4 separate regions of the Homo sapiens genome follow, and all the other regions are reported to be linked to region 2. The links are microRNA targets in miRTarBase. Many come from high-throughput screens and were not tested one by one. Region 2 holds a microRNA gene; each other region holds the end of a gene's coding sequence.
Evidence for each region. The annotated mature microRNA hsa-miR-504-3p reads GGGAGUGCAGGGCAGGGUUUC and lies in region 2 at 2,938-2,958, opposite strand. An mRNA with a match to its seed (bases 2 to 7 or 8) in the 3' UTR can be bound and repressed. Matches are read on the target gene's strand: a 7mer-m8 pairs with bases 2 to 8, a 7mer-A1 pairs with bases 2 to 7 and ends in A, and an 8mer does both.

Region 1 (4,539 bases), not on the chromosome of region 2:
CATGACTTGATAGTAATTTAGAAGTCCTCCTGTTTTCATTAGCTTATACTTTCTTGCTGTTTGTTCTTTTTTTTTTTTTTTTTTTTTTTTTTTTTTTTTTTTTTTTTTTTTAGTGTAAGAGGTTATCAGCCAGCTAAAATCCCAAAGCATGTTTACCATCCATGGGCACAACCCCACCAACATTTGTTTAGTTCTTCCTAGTATGCAGAGCACACACACAGTCACCATTTCATGTGATCTGAATTTCAGGGCAGCCCTTCGACGTAGGTGTATGGTTAATCCCAACCTGGAGATGAGAAAATGAAGGCTTAGTGAGGTCTGGGTCTCATTCATGGTTACTTAACTTGGATTCTTGACTTAGTAGCCAATACCACATCAGTTGGCTCATCAGAAAAGTGATTGTGAAATCTCTGAAGGTTGGCAGTTGATGTGACTTATCTGGAATCTGGTATTTTATAAGTGAGAGAACTAGGAAGAGAGTAGATAATTTCCCTACCTCATGCAAACCTGGGTTTTCTACAGGTTTTTTGTTTGTTGCATTTGGCTCAGCAGTAGTTGATACATTTTGTTCTCCCAGTTAATGAGTTTCTGTTTGATATTGCAGCTGGCAGACTTCAGGGAGGTGGTGTCGCAGATGCTAGGCTTGAACGTGACCAGCCTTGCTCTTCCTGATTATGAAATCATCAAGTGTCTTGAAAGATTGGTCCATTCACATCAGCATCACTTTGTTACCTGTGCCTGCCTCAAAGATGTGACTACTGGGCAAGAGAGGCACCCACAAGGCCATTTACAGCTTCTTCATTGAACACTGTATCTCTTGAGAGAGGTGGCCATAAGACATGGCACACAATTCCCAATTTCACAAATTCCTCATGTCTTTGAGATTTGATCAGTTTGTGAATATTTTATGCTTTGATGATATAGTGAGAATGCATCACTTGCAAAAACGATCTCAAAAGTGTCAGCCTTAGATAAACGTTCAGCATTAAAAACGCCTATTATTTCATTTACTAGCATTTTAGGATCCAGAAGAATTCCACCAGATTGCATGAGTTAGATTGGGAAATGGGAGTGGGAGATAATATTGGGAGGTATCTATTTTAAGTCAGGGGCTTTACTAGCCGATTTAGTTCTCACAATAACCATGTGGAGAAGCTGTGACATTTTTAATTTACAACCTTTCTGGGGCTCAGACATAAAGTTACCTATCCAAGGTTGCAGTTGGGTAGTGGTGGGACCAGGATGGACAACTCATTGGCCCTGCCTCAAAAGCCATACCTCTTCTCCTGCTATGCAGAATCTGTTTCTCCTGAATCTCTGTGATGCTGGTGGGAATTGTTTGCATAGAGGAAGGACAATAACCCTGCCATCGTGAGTTAATGTCCGGGCTGGTCACAGTGGTTCATGCCTGTAATCCCAGCACTTTGGGAGTCCAAGGCAGGCATATCATTTGAGGTCAGGAGTTTAAGACCAGCCTGGCTAACATAGTGAGACCCTGTTTCTACTAAAAATACAAAAATAAGCCAGGTGTGGTGGTGCATGACTGTAATCCCAACTACTCAGCAGGAGAAGCACTTGAACCCAGGAGACGGAGGCGGCAGTGAGCCAAGATTGTGCCACTGCACTCCAGCCTGGGCGACAGAGTGAAACTACATCTCAGAAAAAAAAAAAAAAAAAAAAAAAAAAAGTTAATGTCCAAAAATGACAGATTTACAAGTGTAAGCTATATGATTTCTTCAAAAAGCAAAAGCAATATACCTAATTCATTTGGATCAAACTTACATAGGTCTCAGGTCCTGTAAGAAACTTGCCTGTTCTAACTGTTGCTACCAGATTATATCTGGTGGTAATTGTTAATGTTTCAGCAGGGCTGGTCTCAGTCCTTTAAAATGGAAAGCTTTATTTGGAGCCCAACCCTATAAGATGAAGAAATCCTATATAGTCTTATTCACCAATATATCCAATACACCCACAGCAATGGTACCTTTTTAAGATCAGGATTTTATTATGAATTCCTGTCACTTTCTGTTTTCCATTTAAATTTCTATTTTACAAATTTTTCAGGGAATCATATTCTTAACTTCACTGAGAAAAATGTGTTACTCTTTTGGACAATTTATCTTATTTCTATCATATAAGATGTATTTTTTTATTGTCCTTAAAAGAAGCTCTAGCATGAAATTAAAGGAAAGGGAAAGAAATAGATCTGGTGCACCCGAACATTAGGAGAAAATGAAAAATATACAACCAACCGTTCGTGAGTCATCAAAAAGTCAAAGTCAGCCTGGCCAACATGGCAAAACTCCGTCTCTGCAAAAAATACAAAAATGAGCCCGGTATGTTGGCATATGCCTGTAATCCCAGCTACTCGAGAGGCTGAGACACGAAAATTGCTTGAACCTGGGAGGCGGAGGTTGCAATGAGCCGAGATCGCGCTACTGCACTCCAGCCTGGGCAACAGAGAGAGACCTTGTCTCAAAAAACAACAACAACAAAAAGTCAAAGTCATAATAAGCAAATTATTGGCTTCTTTCTTCTAGACTAAAAGAAATTAAAGAGATGAAACAATCAATTGCAAGGGTCAAAACTAGATTGGATCTTGGTTTGAATGAAAAAAAGCATAAAATATTCTTGCAATAATTGTAAAAATTTGAATGTGGACTAAGTCCTAGATTATATTAAAATATTTTTAATTTTTTAAGCTTGACAAATGCACTGATTGTTATACTTTAAATAACTAAAAATCTGAGAATCCACAGTGCTACAGACAATAAGTGATAAAATGGGAAAAAATAGTGAAGATCTTCTTTTAGGAAAACTACCAATAAATGTAGAATGGATGATTCCAAAAAAAAAAAAAAAAAGAAGAAAGAGAGAAAGAAAGAAACAGAAAAACCTAAAAGAAAGCGAATGAATTTGACACCTGTTGGTTGGATGACAGACCACACAGAGGGAGAGTGACCAGGCTTTGCTTGTGGAGCGGGCATCCCTGCCTAGCTATCTCCTTCATGTGCAAGGACAGTATAAGTAGTATTTTGCATGTGAGTAAACACACCTGCGCAGCCCTGGCTGAGGTCACTAGGCTGGCCAGAGGCAGGACAGGCAGTCTTGAATTTCCTCTAGGGGAGGCCTGCAGTTTTCCCCACCAACCCCTTTTCACATGCTCCAAAGATGTAGTAGTGTCTGCTGTTTTGGATCGAAAATCACCTTGAGTGGAGGAAGTGACTTCACTGGGTCTCTGGAGGCTCTCGGAGCTTGAGTGGCTCTGCCCCACCCTGAATCATGCACCCATAAATGCAGTTATGGGTGGATGTGGGTGTATGAGAGTGGAGATTGTTTTTGTACATTCTCTTTGTTTTCATTTTCCAAATATAATCTTTAATAAACTTGATTTAGTTTCTTGGGAAATTTATTTTCTACGCTATTCAAAGATATTTTAAATAATATTTTAAAAACATGAAATTTTTTTTTCATTTTTGATTTGATATCATTAATTTTATATCAGGATTCATGTAAGAGACTAAAAATGATCCATAGTGGTTAGTACTGTAATTTCTGTTTATTACATGAAATTACATTCCATTTATCCAAATATATGTTTATATAATATTTCCACTGTGTGACTCTAGTGATCTTTAACATACACAGAATGATCTACAGTGATCTTTAACATACTCAGAAATATGAAAAATGTTTGAATATGATCTTTAGGGACTTCTAATGAAAAGGGTATATGAAATGGGAACAATAAATTCTGTACATGTATACAGTCCATATACACATTAAGTGTTTGTCATTTGGACAAATTGAAAACTTTTAATAAAGCCATTTTCTTCTTTGTTAAAATGCCAGTTGGTTGTTGGATTTCCCTTTATGGCAATCATTCCAGAGTTGGCAGGCCAGCTTTGAATTTTTAGGTTAGATTTTGTTCTTCTATAATATCCATGTATATTTTATGCTGTCCAATAAAATGCACTAGGTTGATATGATTTTTACATAAGGCTTTAAAATATTTAATACTAACTCTTCTGTCAAATACACTTGAGTGATAGTGATTTTGCACTGAGGTTATTATTCTGGTCACTGTCTGAGACATCTAAATCGATGCATAAAAACATCTCATTTAGGGAAAACAATTTAAGCTTGACCTATCTAAAATTTCCAGTTTTACCTTACAGTCTGTTTTACAGGTTAACAGCAAGTGATTCAAGGTCCAGGGGTGGCAGGCTGAAGCTGTTAAAGAAATCTACATTATTGATATTGTCATAATACTTACGACTCAGAAATGGAGTCTCATTTTAACTGGGGAAGCATTTCATGGTTATGTAGCCTTTGGCTTGGAAAGTCTCACCCAGTTGATGCAGTAGTGATTTTATCCACATTATTGGACACTTCACTTAGCTTCTCATTAGCAAGTGGGGTCTGTATGCTTCTCTTTCCGCTATGTGCTTCCATACCGTATTCCTCTGCCTTTGTATAAACACATGGTTCATTTGAGGCTCCTGCTAGCTGATAGATGGATAACTTTCTTCTAGACCT
Region 2 (4,539 bases):
TCCCTCTACCAATAGCCAACAATGGTCTGATTACAAGAATTTAGGAAACATACTACTTATTTTGGCTCAAAGAAGTCCAAAGGAAGTTCCCTTCTCATCCTTTTCCACCTTCCTCACCACTGCTCCATTCAATTTTATACCTATGTTGTTTTTAAACTCAGTATGCACTGACCTTAATACTCAAGGGTATGCTCGGTCCAATGAGCTCTCTGGAAGTGAGGGAACACAACCAAGATCTTTGTTTGTAGGAAAGGGGTTCTCAGTGACCTAGAGTTTGCTCCTTTAGTCCCTTCATAGTCTTCTACCCTGGAGAGTAGATTATATCCCAGTTTCCAGAGATCACCCCAAAACAAGATCCAGGTCTCACTTAAACCTAAGATTCCTCCACTCAAAACTAATTTGAAGGAACAAAGTGAGGCTGTCTGCTTCTCCTTGAACCTGTGAGGCCTTAGAATCTGTGTCAATTCTTCTTCAAGTATCATAGGGATTCCACGGCTACCTGGGGTTCAGCTCGAGCCAAGGCTCTAATGATCTCAATTTATTATTGATTTGACTGTGTAATTAAGTTACTTTAATCCTTGTGCACTGAACAACCAGTGTCCTTACTGCAAGTGTTCCTGACTGGATAGAGGAGATAGTAGGGGAGCTGTTTCCTGTGCCTTTTAAGCAGACACAGGCAAAATAATTTTGGAAGATTTTGTAAACACTTAGAATATGTGTATCTGCAATATATCTTTCTGGCTGGGCCTTTGGAAATATATCAAAAGCGTCTAGCGTACTTTAGTTAATGCCTAAGCATTAACTCTGAACACAGGGATAATATTAAAAGCATTTCATTCGTATTTATGAAAAACATGTAGATTTTTTGCAGTAGATTATATTTCAGTATTCTGTAAGTGCTTGTCAGATGAAGGCAGTTTAACTGAGATGTAGTGGCACTTAATTTTTGAAAAGAAAAGAGAAAGCCCCTACCCTCATGTAAAACTAGTGACAAAAGTGTGTGCCTGACCACTTTTTAAAAGAGCACAAGGATAAGACAGGGCAGCAAAAGGTGCTATTTTAAAGTAAAAAAGAATAGCAATCTGCTATAAAGAGAAAAAAAAGAAAGCAGGGAGCAATAATGCCATCAACTAAATTAGGGCTGACACAGGGCTGGGAGGTACATAATCATCTGTTTCTCAGATACTCAGATGAGAAGTGAAACCATTCCCAGTGTTTTCAAAAATTTTAACATGTATGCTATCACTAAGATGTTTTCATAGGGAGTTTTTGTCCTATGATTTAATTCCCTGGCATTTACATTGTATTTCTTCAATTGTCTACATTTTGAAATCAAAATGTTCAAATGCTGAATGATGGTAGTCTAGACTCTCTAAACTGTCCAACAAAAGACATGGATTTTCTTCTTCCTGAGAAAAGTCTGAGTTGCTATATTATCTCATAAGCCTCATCAATAAGGATCCAATATCTGAGAGTTTTTTCTACATATAATACACTGTGTATTTGCATTCCTGAAAAGAAAAAAATGTGTTTTTATTGTTAAAATCTAGCCATATTCAGTTGTCAGCTAATGAGGAAATTCATGAGAAAGCTACATTCTCCTAAGGTATGATCCAAAAAGTACGTATGACAATAATTGAATAAGAGGTGCTAGAAAGAAGCACTTAAAGAAAGTGAAGTTGGGACATGGCAAAGTGTACTGGAAAGAGTATTGGTTAGGAGTCACAAGACTTGCTTTCTAATTCCAAATTCCAATGTTGTCAATTATTTATTAGCTACGTGTCTTTTGGAAAACCACTTCATCTTTCTGGACATAAGTTTCCTTATCTATAAGGACAGAATAATAAGCCCTTCTCTATCTCACAAGGTGTAGCAGGGATCAAATGAGGAAATAAAGATGAAAATACTATAAATTTTAAAGTGTTAGATATAGGTCTATTTCAATTATCATATATGAACAGAATACAGAAACATATACAACTTATAAATAAAAGATCATTATTCCATTTCCTAACACTTTTTTAAGAATTCAAGTGCCTGATCTAGACATAAAGGTTGTACACATTTAGGTGTGAACAGTTCCTTGTTCCCAAAAACAAAAACAAATAAACAGAGAACAAACTAAATAGATTATTACTATTCAACCACTAAAATGTAGATTAAGAATAATATTTTAATATATAGAGGAATAGTCATAATAACGAGTAAACAGCAGGTTTGAAACATGGTATGCATAGTTATTCCAAATGTACATATATATCTTTATGTAATATATATGTATTTTATATATGTACACATATATGTGTATACATATATTATGCTATATCATATATTAGGTTATATATGTATATTATGTATTTATACATATATATAAAATACGTATATATTACATGAAGATATATATGTATATTTGGAATATATGTATACATATATAATATACATATATATTACATAAAAATGTATATTTGGAATATATGTATATATATAGAGAGAGAGAGAGAAAGAAAGACAAAGACAGAGAGAGAGAGATATACACGAATTCCAGCTAGCCACTACAAGGATCTATAACAGAACATTAATATTGGTTTTCTCTTGGTTGGGGGACTTTGTAGATACCTTTTTGTATTTTCCAATTTTTCTGCAAAGAACATATATTACATTGGTAAACAGAAAATAAACATACACAAAATAACTGTTCAGAAAGAAAAGCTCAATTAGAAACTTAACATTCTTACTGAACCTGACTATAAGAGAGTTACAAAGACATTTCAATAACTACTAAAGAGACTTATCAGGATTGAGTTTCTTCATAGAAGAGGATCAGTTGAATTTTCATGAAGCATTGGGGTGGTGGGGTAAGATTCCAGGTGAAATGGCTTTGAAGTTGAGTTCCAGTCAACATTTGCCATACGGTGGTAGTCTGTGCCCTCTGTATGGGAAACCCTGCCCTGCACTCCCTTCAGTAAGAATACAGATAGAGTGCAGACCAGGGTCTCCCAACAGCAGCTGATTCAACATTCCACTCCATATTTTCTGTCTTCTGTTGTGATTCTATGTGGGAAATGGATGGCTCGTTGAGTTACCTTTTCCTTTTGAGTTATTCCACTTCAGTGATGGACACTAACTGATGAGGGTAGACTGTGGCCTTGTGGATCAGTTCGTCCCCTGTAAACAGCTGTACTTTTGGACTTTACATAAATTTTTCTTAGTCTTAAAAAAAATGACAATTTAATATATGATAGGATTTCCATAGTCTTCCAAGAATTATAGGCTTATATATATTGGCCTGAAGGCAGCATGTTATTATATGGACTGTAACGGCAAATAATATGAAGCATTTGTTAACTTAATGAACTTAACACTGTAAAATGCTGTGCATGTATTATCATTCCATTTAATCCTCTTAAGAACCCTATGAGGTCTATACTACTATTACCTCCATTTTATAGATGAGGAAACTAAAGGACAGATGGATTAATAATTCCTTTGCCCCAAATCATAAACCTTATAAGCATTTGAATTGTGTTTCAAATCCATGTAATGTCAGAGCCCTCCCTCTTAACCACTACAGGCATTTTAAAGGCAGATATTATGTATCATTTATTATGATGCTGCAGCCTGCTTAAAATCAGGATAGCAAAAGGTTGTTGCCACAGGGTAAAAAGGGGAAGAAGTGGGGGAGGGTAGTGTGTTCTATTTCAGAGATAGAGACAATGACTCCATTGTTGGTTATTTTGAGTTTAAAGAGCCATTAGTGATAGGTTAATGTGCAGCAGCCATTTGTATATATAAGCCTGGCTCTCAAGATGAAAGGTGTCTGCATATGGATGGTAACTGAAACCACAAGAATACATTTAATAATCTAGAGAACACAAGCAGAATACAAGACAACTACTGAGGCTGGAAACTGGGGGTGGGGAGGACATCAAACATTTCAGAAAAGACGAGGGAAGTGTAAAAATTAAAAGAAAAATAGTGATGGTGTAGAACAGAGAAAAAGCAGTGTTGTGAAAGCCCACAGAAGAGATGGTTTCAATGAAAAAGTTGACCAACCTGGTCAAGTGCTGTAGAAAGGAGAAATAAGGTAAGGACTGAAGGGAGAAATGGATTTTAGTTGGCAGTCACTAGCGACATTAGCAGGAGGAGTTCATGGATGGCAATGTGGGCAGAAGATAGAATGCGGAGGGCTGAATAATTAAGAATTAGATGAGAAAATAAAAGCAAAGGTGAAGCTGAATAATTTAAAAATAGGCGAGAAAATGAAGAAAGCTCTTGCCTATCAAAGGAAAGAGACAGTCTGAAAGAGAAACTTAGGAGGGACTTTTTAGGATGAGAAGTCTTGAAATGATCTGTATGCCAGTGGAAAAAAGGTAGTAGTCCAGGAGGTAGTGAAGGTACAGGACAAAGGATAATTGATGTATCTAGGTCCCCATGGCTTTGGGAAGAGATAAAATAAATGGAAAAAGAAGAGGAACTTTTCTTTTGGGAGATGGTTGTTGAACTGAATGGCTTTTAAGGCCCTTCACAATACTGATGCAA
Region 3 (4,539 bases), not on the chromosome of region 2:
ACAACCAGTATTTGTTGAAGGATGAAAGGAATGCAGGGAGGGAAGAAAAGAAGGAAGGAAAGAAGAAAAAAGGAAGGAAGGAAAGAAGGGAAAGAGGAAGGAATGAAGGAACAAAGGAGGGAAAAGAGGATGAAAGGAAGGAATATTTATTTAATGGAGGAAGGAATGGTTGATGCCATTAATAGATATTAATTTGTCCAGGCTATTTTGTTCTTCCCAACTGCCATATAATCTATGCTGTTAGGGTTGCCAGATTTAGCTAATAAAAATACAGGATGCCCAGTTAAATTTGAATTCTGATAAACAATGAATATTTTAAAAATATAAGTATGGCCCATGCAATATTTGGGCCAGGCTTATACTCAAAACCTATTTGTCATTTATCTGAAATACACATTTAACTGGACATCCGTTCTGTATTTTGTCTGGCAACCTTACGCGCTTTTCACCCTGAATATGTGTTTTTATCAAGCCGCCCACAACAGAAGTGGCAGCTCATTGGACTAGAATACTTTCCTGCCAACAATTTCAAGGCTAGGTGTGCTGTTAAGCTTGTACACTATATTACACAGTGATGACTATAATTTCAAGCCTTTATGCATTTCAGACTCATTGATTTGCTCTCTGTTTAATTTCTATTAGTCAAGAGCATGTGGCTTTTAAAGCTATATACAAATACATATTGAAATTGTTTTAGATTACTTATGACCTAAAATAGAGATGCACACTTAATATTTTCTAATGAAATTTTTAACGAAAAGTTGCATTTAATATTTGGCAGAGCATTTTGCAGGATTTAAGATATATCTGGTAAAGGAAAGAAAATTCAGATCAAAAGTTGTGTCTTTCAAAAAACATTGATAGGTTAAAGCTCTCATAGTTTCCAAGAAATCTTGATCATACTTTCTAAAATATCATGTCACTTTGCACAATTTGTGCTACTATGCATTACAACTAAGATTAGAGTTCCAGACAACAGTGATGTCATTTCATGACCATTTAGAAACCTTACATGCATCATTCTAAGCAATGGGCAAGGTATTGCATAAATATTGTTCTAAAAGAGGACCCCGGGGGTGGAGGCATTTTTTTCTAAGGTGACCAAAGCACCAAGAATCGACCTTTGTACAGATGGGGGAAACATTCAGGCAGATAGGAGTATTTTTACGATGAACACAAACACAGCCAGTACCTGCACCATCTTTTCTGTTTACAAAACATACATACACGCCCATGGCTTTGAGTGAGTCCCAAACACTCAAACCTGTTTTTCTGCAATCCTCTCAGAACCACAGCCTAATGGTGCTTGTAAGGATGGAGCTTTGGTTTTGTATAATGAAAACACCAATACGGTGCTTTCGAGGTCCAAATTAGATATACTCATCCTGTACAAATGCAGAGAAGTGCCAAAATGGCTATCTTATCTATGTATTTAATGGATTTGGAAGTACCTTTTGTATATGTTTTTCCAAATTATTGGTTCACCTTTGAATCCCTAGAACAGGTATCATACACTCCAGATTCTGACTGACGATGGATCAAGCTTTCTTTTCCTTACCTCTCCCTATCTACATATCAGAGTGTTTTGGCAATTATATTAATTTTCTAAAAAAGATTACAAACCTAACAGGTGGAAAAGTGGTCTTTGTTATAGTACAAATAAATATTACCTATTTGTCCTCTTCACCATGGTTTCAACCCACCACTATTGGATTTGAAATATCTTTCTTCTCTCTAAGTATTCTCTGTATGCCCCCCCTCTTTTTTTTTAAGAACCAGGAAAACATAATGGCAAGTTATTTAAGATTTAAAATGTTATGCAGCAAATAAATAGGACGCTGTTGAACCCCAAGCTCAGGTGTGAATTCAATGGATGCATTTTGGCTTTTCTTTCAATTCCGTGAGCTGAACAAATCATGCTTGGAAAGAATGAGAAGAATCTGCCAATAACACATTCAATCATCATGATAAAAACATGCAAACCAAAAAGATAGTCTTCATTTGGGTCTAGATAGCAATTAGAGTTATAGGAGGACTCCTCTCCATCAGAAGCGTAGATCGCCTCACTCAGGGGAAAGTCCCAGGTCAGATATTTTAACTTTTTATTTCATCTTGGCCATCTTCACACCCAGTAAACCCCTCTGTCTGATGTGAGGCAAGCCCAAAGCCATGCCATGTAAATACCGCTCTCTACCTGGAACTCTCCTAGTGTCCTACCTTTCTAGCTTGTTCTGAAAGTCTTCTATTTGTAAACCAATGCTCTGACAATAGGGTGTGGTGAGCGATTATATGTTATTAGTTTTTCATATTCGATCGTGAATTAAGAGCTAATTAACTAGGAGCAAATCCGTAACTTAACATGACGTCAACTGGATTGGTCAGCACAGAAGGTTTAGTTCAGGTTGGGTTCCCATCTTGGGGAATGGCCGAAGGTGGAGGACCACCTGAACACATAGGAGGGCCCTTAGTGTATGCGGGCATCATGCTGGAAGGGAGAGAAAAAGAAGTAGAGAAAACACAAATGGGCAAATGAAAGAGATTGGTTAAGACCCAGCCTTGCTTATCCTCAACATTTGAAAATGGCTGGTGAAACTAATCTGCCAAAGCATTTGACCTTGGTCTCTGCCCTGTTTCCTAAAAATGACACAAATGGTCTGGGCATGGTTGACTATATAAGGCATGGAACTTCTATGACACATGATGCACATTATCTTCAAGCTATGGGACTCCATGCACATTAACATAAGTGTACAGAAAGCCATTTGTTTCTTTATGTGAAATGAAACCTCAAGGGCACACATTGCCTCTATCTTTGTTAAAGGTGGGCTCTAATACTGGTCTATCCACAAGAAAACCAAAAGATGAAAGAAGAAAATAAGCTTCTTTTCATCTCAATGTTCTGCAAAGAAGAATATTTTTCTACCAACCTGTTAAGGGCACATGCTCATTCATAGGACACTTAATGTAGAAAATAACCAAAGGGAAGAGGTGGAAGGTGGCAATTACTAAAAGTAAGCTGCAAAAAAGCATTCATTACAAGTAACAATCATAAAGACAACTTTAAGCTATTCATGAGCTGATTAAGGAATCTCTATATAGTAACTACTTCTAGCACTCTCCAATCTTTCTTCCATTGCTCAACTTTTTGTCACTTTATAAGTCATTGGCATTGCTATGGAAAGGTGGGGTGGTGAAATGGAATGGTGACAGAAGTTAGTATCTAATAATTAAAATGAAAGATAGCCTTGGCTGGACACTGGAGCTTGCCTTGGGTAATTCAGGATTATGGATGATGAAGGCCTAAAAAAAGCAGTAGTAATCTGTGAACTTTATCTCTCTAAACCCGTTTTATTCTAGTTCCCAGCTCTAAACTAGAGGACTTAAGAGAATGATTAGGACTTAGTTTTCATGTTCTGGTCTTTCATTAAAATAAATCCTACTCCAGCAAGCTACTATCCTGCTTGGCATTGGGAGATGCTAGCTGCCTCTAAGCAGACCCATCTCCCTGTAAGAAAGCTCCTCACCAGGCTAATCGCAATGCCTCAGAGCAAACCCATACCTGCAGAGCTATTCTTCATCCACGTCTGTTACAAACTGTGAATGGTGTTCGGGTGACTTGCTGTGCGTTTTGCTTAGGTGGAGTTTTACCGCATGTTTGCTCACAAATGTCCGACAGCACAACTTACACTTGAATTTAGAGTCTGTGTCCTCTTCGGCAGCTATTGTTTCTGGAGACCTCTGAGCCGACGATACCCGGGAGATCTCTTGCTCCACCTTGCTTTGCTGGTCCACTGACAAGCGGGTCATGTCCTTCATTTGGAAACCCAGGTGAGATTCTAAGTGACTGATGTAGGTAGAAGGGGTTCTGAACTGGGAGGCACAGTCACTGCAATAAAAGATGGGGTGGCCTTTGTCCATGTTTTTCAGAAATTTTGTCCCGCCCGTTTTCCTAAGCTGGTACTTGACGTTGGCCAGCCAGTGACTGATAGTGGTCATTGAGAGTCCCGTAAACTTAGAGATTTGCATACGCTCTTGTGGGCCCAGATCAGACAGCAGGTATTTGCCCTCTGATGTCTGGAAGAGGCTCGAGGCAAACTGGGCTTGTAGAATCAGAAGATGCTGAGGATTCCAGTTGGACTGCCGGCCTTTTCTTTTATGCAAAGTTGAGACTTCACTGGAGACATCCTCAAAGCGCCTGACATCCATTTCCAGCTTCATGGGGGGGACCCTGGAGGAGGAGGCTGGCTTTGGGGTGGTGGCTTTGGGGAGGACTTTGACCATGTCGGCGATGTCAGACAGAGCGTGCTTCTGAGGTGGGGACATACAAGATTGTGCTTGCGAGGACTCGGCTTTCTTGCTTTTGGACTTGGTCAGGTCAATGGGCTGATCGCTGTTCTCAAACAGGTAGCGCCTGGACACGCTGGCTGACCTTGTGGAGGCAGGACTCAAGACCGGCTTGTCCATGACATTGAGATTCGACTTGTGGAACATGGAAATTGTGCTTGAACTTGGGCTGGAGCAGGAAGGTGAGCGCAAGGG
Region 4 (4,539 bases), not on the chromosome of region 2:
GGAAAACAGGACACCTCAGATGGACGGCGCGGCGGTCCTTGGTGACAGAGCACTGCTCTTTAACACATGCTGTAGTAATGACATGATCGCCTTCTGTCCGGGGCCTTCACTTCGAAATAGAGCACTAAGATCGGGGAGGAAAACCATGAGGATGTTGACCCCTGGCTGCTCTGTTTGCTTAAACAGCAGTTACTCACCCCGAATTACCCATAGATAGTGACCAACTGGTCTGAAATCCAGATAGAGTTGCTAATGATCAGCCCTTCCTTCACCCATTCCACTTGTTCTTAAAAATGTATCACTCAGGAAATGCTTTACAGAAAAACTGTGGCAAGACCCTTTGTTGCAGAGGAAAGACCTGCTCTAGCCCCAGAGGATGGCTCCAGCATCCACCTGGGACAGTGGAAACATTGGGCATTAAGACACTTAATAAAAAGGACACTTTAAAAAGAAGGGGGCAGGAAAGATAGAAGGCAGGAGGTGCAGGCACTCAGACAACTGCCCTCGACCCCACCCGGGATGGGCCACGGACAGGTGTCTGCATTGCCCTGAATGCAGCGCTTTTCCTACCCCAGCATAGACGGCGCCCATTTCTGCACTGTTCTAAAACCCCTTCCCTATGCGAGAATCAGTTCTAAGGGAAGGAAGCCCTCTTAGGAGAGGAGGTACTGGGCACACATCTGACAGCTCTGCCACCAGCAGGCAGGCGTCACCCAGCTCAGCACAGCCCCGAGTCCCAGGCTGCAGCCTCCTGTGCTGTTTCAGAGGGGAGGAATGGGTGTGTGGATCTCTGTAACTTCTCACAGTGAGGGAAACGGGGGTTGGATGGTGCTCTAGTGGCCGGCTTTGCCCCGCAGTGCAGTTGCCGGAAGGGAGCAGCCCTGGGATGGCCGACGTTTGTATTAGAAATGTTAGGAAATGTTCCTTCTGGCCTTTCCCAGGGGCTAGAGGGCCACGGTTCCTGACCTGTGTCCTTTCTTTGCCTTCAGGTCCACATTGGCCAACTGTATTCAACTGACAAGCTGATCATTGAGAATCGAGACATGCCCAGGACCTAGCAAGCCGGGGACCAGCCACCAGTGGCGGCCAGGGACCACCTTCAGCATCCACTCTCTGTTTGAGATGGGGGCTCCCAAAACCAGCTTACAATAGCCTTTTGCGCTGCCTGTCCTGTGGGAGCTGATAAACCAAGTCACATTTGCATTCTGTTGCAGGCTTAGTGAAAAAGGACTGCTGTCTTTCCTTGGTTCAAGTGTTAGAATGGAGAGCTGGAGTTCGTTCAGAATAGTGCTGTGTGTTACCACGTCTCCCCTGCACCCCATTCCTACCTTGTAGCTCATGACCATTGTGTATAGCATTTCTACACTTTGTTTCTTGGTCCTTGGCAATAAAAAGAATGATCTCCCTGAGCCTTTGACCCCAGATAAACCCCTCCCAATTAATGCATTTTCATTTCCTACTGATACAAGGCCTGGAGAGGGCTGTTGGGGGCCCTCAGGGAGGGTTCAACTCTGAGACGAGAACTGCCTTGGTGAAGGCAAGTTCAAGCACCACTTGAGACTGGGGGCAGCATGGAGTAGGGCAGGGCTACGGGGATACACGGTGCACCCTGCAACTTATACCTGAGCCCAGTACAACAAAGGTGACGGGTGTGTAGGTACACACCCAGAGATGGAGCACTGCAGATCAGCAACCTCAGCCCCACCTGGGAATTTGCTGGAAATGCAGGCTCAAGCCCCTCCCCACACCTGGTGAATGAGAGAGCCCCAGCCTGACCCAAGCCCAGGGCGACTCCCATACCCTGAAGCCTGGGGCATGCTGGGCAGCACCGGTGCCCAAATCTGGCTGGTGGACAGAAGCACCTGGAGAGTTGGAGAGCTTTTTAAAAAGACATCTCTCAGCACTTCCCTCTCTGCAGATTCTGACTCAGTAAGTGAGGGGTGAGGCACAGTCATTTTTCTCTATTCTGAAGCTCTCCCACTGTTTTCAATGTTTAACCAACTGGGGACCCCTGCTCTTTAAGTATATTACAGGTAATAAAGATATTGTTTGTATGCTTTTATTCTTGGAAACAGATTCATTCCAAACATAGAAAGAACATATTAAATAACTTGCTTGTCATCTGGGGAGTTTACGAGGGACCAGACCTGGCAGAGCGGTTTCTTGTTTCCCTTTGCATACAGTGCTCAGTGGATTTGGTATCTGTGGGTTAAGGTTTGGAACAGGCTCCTATAAATAGCACCGGTCCTGGAATAGCTGCAGCACTGTCACCCCCTCATTTTAACTCCGACGGTCATGGGAGTGAGTACGCACTGTCTGAGCCCGTGTTCTTCTCACCCTCATATGAGAACTCATGTCTTCCAGTCGCTTTTAGAGAGCATAGATTTGCTGCAATGATGCGTTCAAATAGATGTAACGTGTAGCCATTCTATTTGGCAGTACAACTTTTGATTTCAGGATAAAGTCTTTTTTTTTGAGATGGAGTCTCGCTCTGTCACCCAGGCTGGAGTGCAGCGGTGCGATCTTGGCTCACTGCAACCTCCACCTCCTGGGTTCAAGCCATTCTCCTGCCTCAGCCTCCCGAGTAGCTGGGATTACAGGGGCCTGCCACCACGCCCAGCTAATTTTTTGTATTTTTAATAGAGACGGGGTTTCACTATGTTGGCCAGGCTGGTCTTGAACTCCTCGGCCCCCCAAAGTGCTGGTATTACAGGCATGAACCACCACCCCCTGCCAATTTCAGGATAAAGTCCTGAGCATCTGTGAAAATAATGAAGCTCTTAGCAAGTCCCAGATCTCTTACCCTCTAACCAGTTCCTGCCTGGGAGCTGCAGTGTTAGAGCATATGCAAAGCCCTAATTGGGGGAGAGCTGTTCGGTGGACAGTGAACGGAGGTGATGTGGCAAGTATAATCACTCCCTTCAGCTGACTGTCACGGGGCAGAGCCGCCCAGCCCAGCCCTGTGTGTGGCTCTGGCTCAGGTTTTCCACCTTGCATCAGTGCAGTGGAGTTCGTGGTCACTCAGCAGTGAATGCATCCAACCACGCTACTAACGCACGGCACTGCTGATTTATACTTAATTTAAGCAACTGCTACTTGGAACCGAAGTCCAGATTTGAACCTCCGTGCTGAAGGCATCAAATTGCCGGCAAGATAACAGCTCCAGAGGAGACTTCTCCCACTCCCCCAGGTTTTACGCAATGAGGCAGTCCACCCAAACTTAACGTGGGCTGCAGGCTGTAACAGCAGGTTGCTTTTGTGTTCATTAAACTGCATGAATGGGTTTGAACATGCCCAAAGCCTTGCTAATGCAGACTTAATTTTGTAAAATTAACTATGCCTTTGGAATCTGCAGAAAGATACAAATCCGAATTCTGTGGCAGGAAACGCCACAAACAGGCCTTGGTCCTCCACCTTTCAGGTGTATATCTGGCAGGCAGAGCCTGGCACTGGGTACTCCCCAACTGAGATGACCCAATATTGATGCTAGAGCTTCGAATAAAGTGGCATTCCCATGGGGGTGACCCCTGGTGTTTCTCTAGGGAAGTATTCCACCTCCTTGACTATGCACCAACTGAGGGGAATGTGGGCAACTCCAACATCCATCATGGCCAGCCTCACAGAACTCTCTAGAACTTGTGCCTGCTTTGAAGATAGGATCCGGGCTGGGGTCTGGAGATCACTTTGCAGCACTAATATTGAGCAAATGAGAACTACTATCATTAGTTAACTTCCCAGGCAGAACTCATTGGCCGAGCAAGGCTATATCCTAGACTTTCAGAGACAGCTCTGGGCTGGGCTGGCTGTCATGACATAATAGCTGGGAGATCTTGCACGGCCAAGTACAGGGCTGTGTTGTTCTGATGGCTGTTGGAATCTGGATTTTGGAACTGAAAGAATTGGCTAGATTGCTTTAGGTATACTCCGTCCTGCTGCTAACTAAGTAGCAGTGACCTTTAACTCCCTTCATCCACAGCCTCTCCCGTTAATCTCAAGCCCCACCATACAACCCACCATCATCCAGGAGCAAAAGGGACAGGCAGAGGGTGAAGCCTACAAAGATGACAAACATCAGAGCTCACCTAGTCCAACCCTCAAATCTTCAGGTGTTAAAACAAAGAGCCTGAACATCTGCAGATCACGTACAGAGTCAGGGCCTTTCCCCTAAACCCCTTTCACTCATTCATTTATTCACTCAGTATTGACTAAGGCCACCTAGTGCCAGGTGCCAGGTGCCAGGGAGCAACCAGTGAACAAGACAGACGTACCTTCATAAAGCCTGTGTCTAGCAGGGAAATCTGAGAAGAAAATGACAAGTCTTATGAATGTTACAAAGAGGGAAATATGAGTGCTGCCAGAGCCGATGGGACGGGCCAGGGAAGGGCTCCCCAGGGGATATTTACACGTGCAAATTAATGATGAGGATTGGCTGTGTGAAGGTGGGGAGAGGAGCTCTCTAGGCAGGAGGAACAGCACATGCAAAGCCCTTAATTGGGGGAGAGGGTAGTTCCATGCAAAGAACTAAAGGGAGTCTGGGAT

Region 1: miRTarBase lists CCDC170 as a target of hsa-miR-504-3p. Seed matches in the 3' UTR shown: 8mer at 1,622-1,629 and 8mer at 2,441-2,448.
Region 3: the mRNA of TSHZ2 is a reported target of hsa-miR-504-3p. The part of its 3' UTR that is shown has no 7-base or 8-base seed match.
Region 4: the mRNA of LYRM4 is a reported target of hsa-miR-504-3p. The part of its 3' UTR that is shown has no 7-base or 8-base seed match.

Annotation. Positions count from the first base shown.
Region 1 is chr6:151,617,343-151,621,881 of GRCh38, forward strand. CCDC170 (coiled-coil domain containing 170) reads left to right here. Exons shown (of 11, transcript NM_025059.4): 11 at 605-3,851. The coding sequence ends at 805. Among named protein-coding and RNA genes, the nearest start is that of CCDC170, 130 kb to the left of the region's middle.
Region 2 is chrX:138,664,787-138,669,325 of GRCh38, forward strand. It overlaps MIR504 (microRNA 504), which reads right to left and starts at 3,007; the gene lies at 2,925-3,007. The region is part of intron 3 of FGF13 (fibroblast growth factor 13); the gene reads right to left.
Region 3 is chr20:53,255,592-53,260,130 of GRCh38, reverse strand. TSHZ2 (teashirt zinc finger homeobox 2) reads right to left here. Exons shown (of 3, transcript NM_173485.6): 2 at 3,560-4,539. The coding sequence ends at 3,568. Among named protein-coding and RNA genes, the nearest start is that of TSHZ2-AS1, 250 kb to the left of the region's middle.
Region 4 is chr6:5,105,942-5,110,480 of GRCh38, reverse strand. It overlaps LYRM4 (LYR motif containing 4), which reads left to right. Exons shown (of 3, transcript NM_020408.6): 3 at 990-2,062. The coding sequence ends at 1,058. All of the region lies in intron 3 of LYRM4-AS1 (LYRM4 antisense RNA 1), which reads right to left. Among named protein-coding and RNA genes, the nearest start is that of PPP1R3G, 23 kb to the right of the region's middle.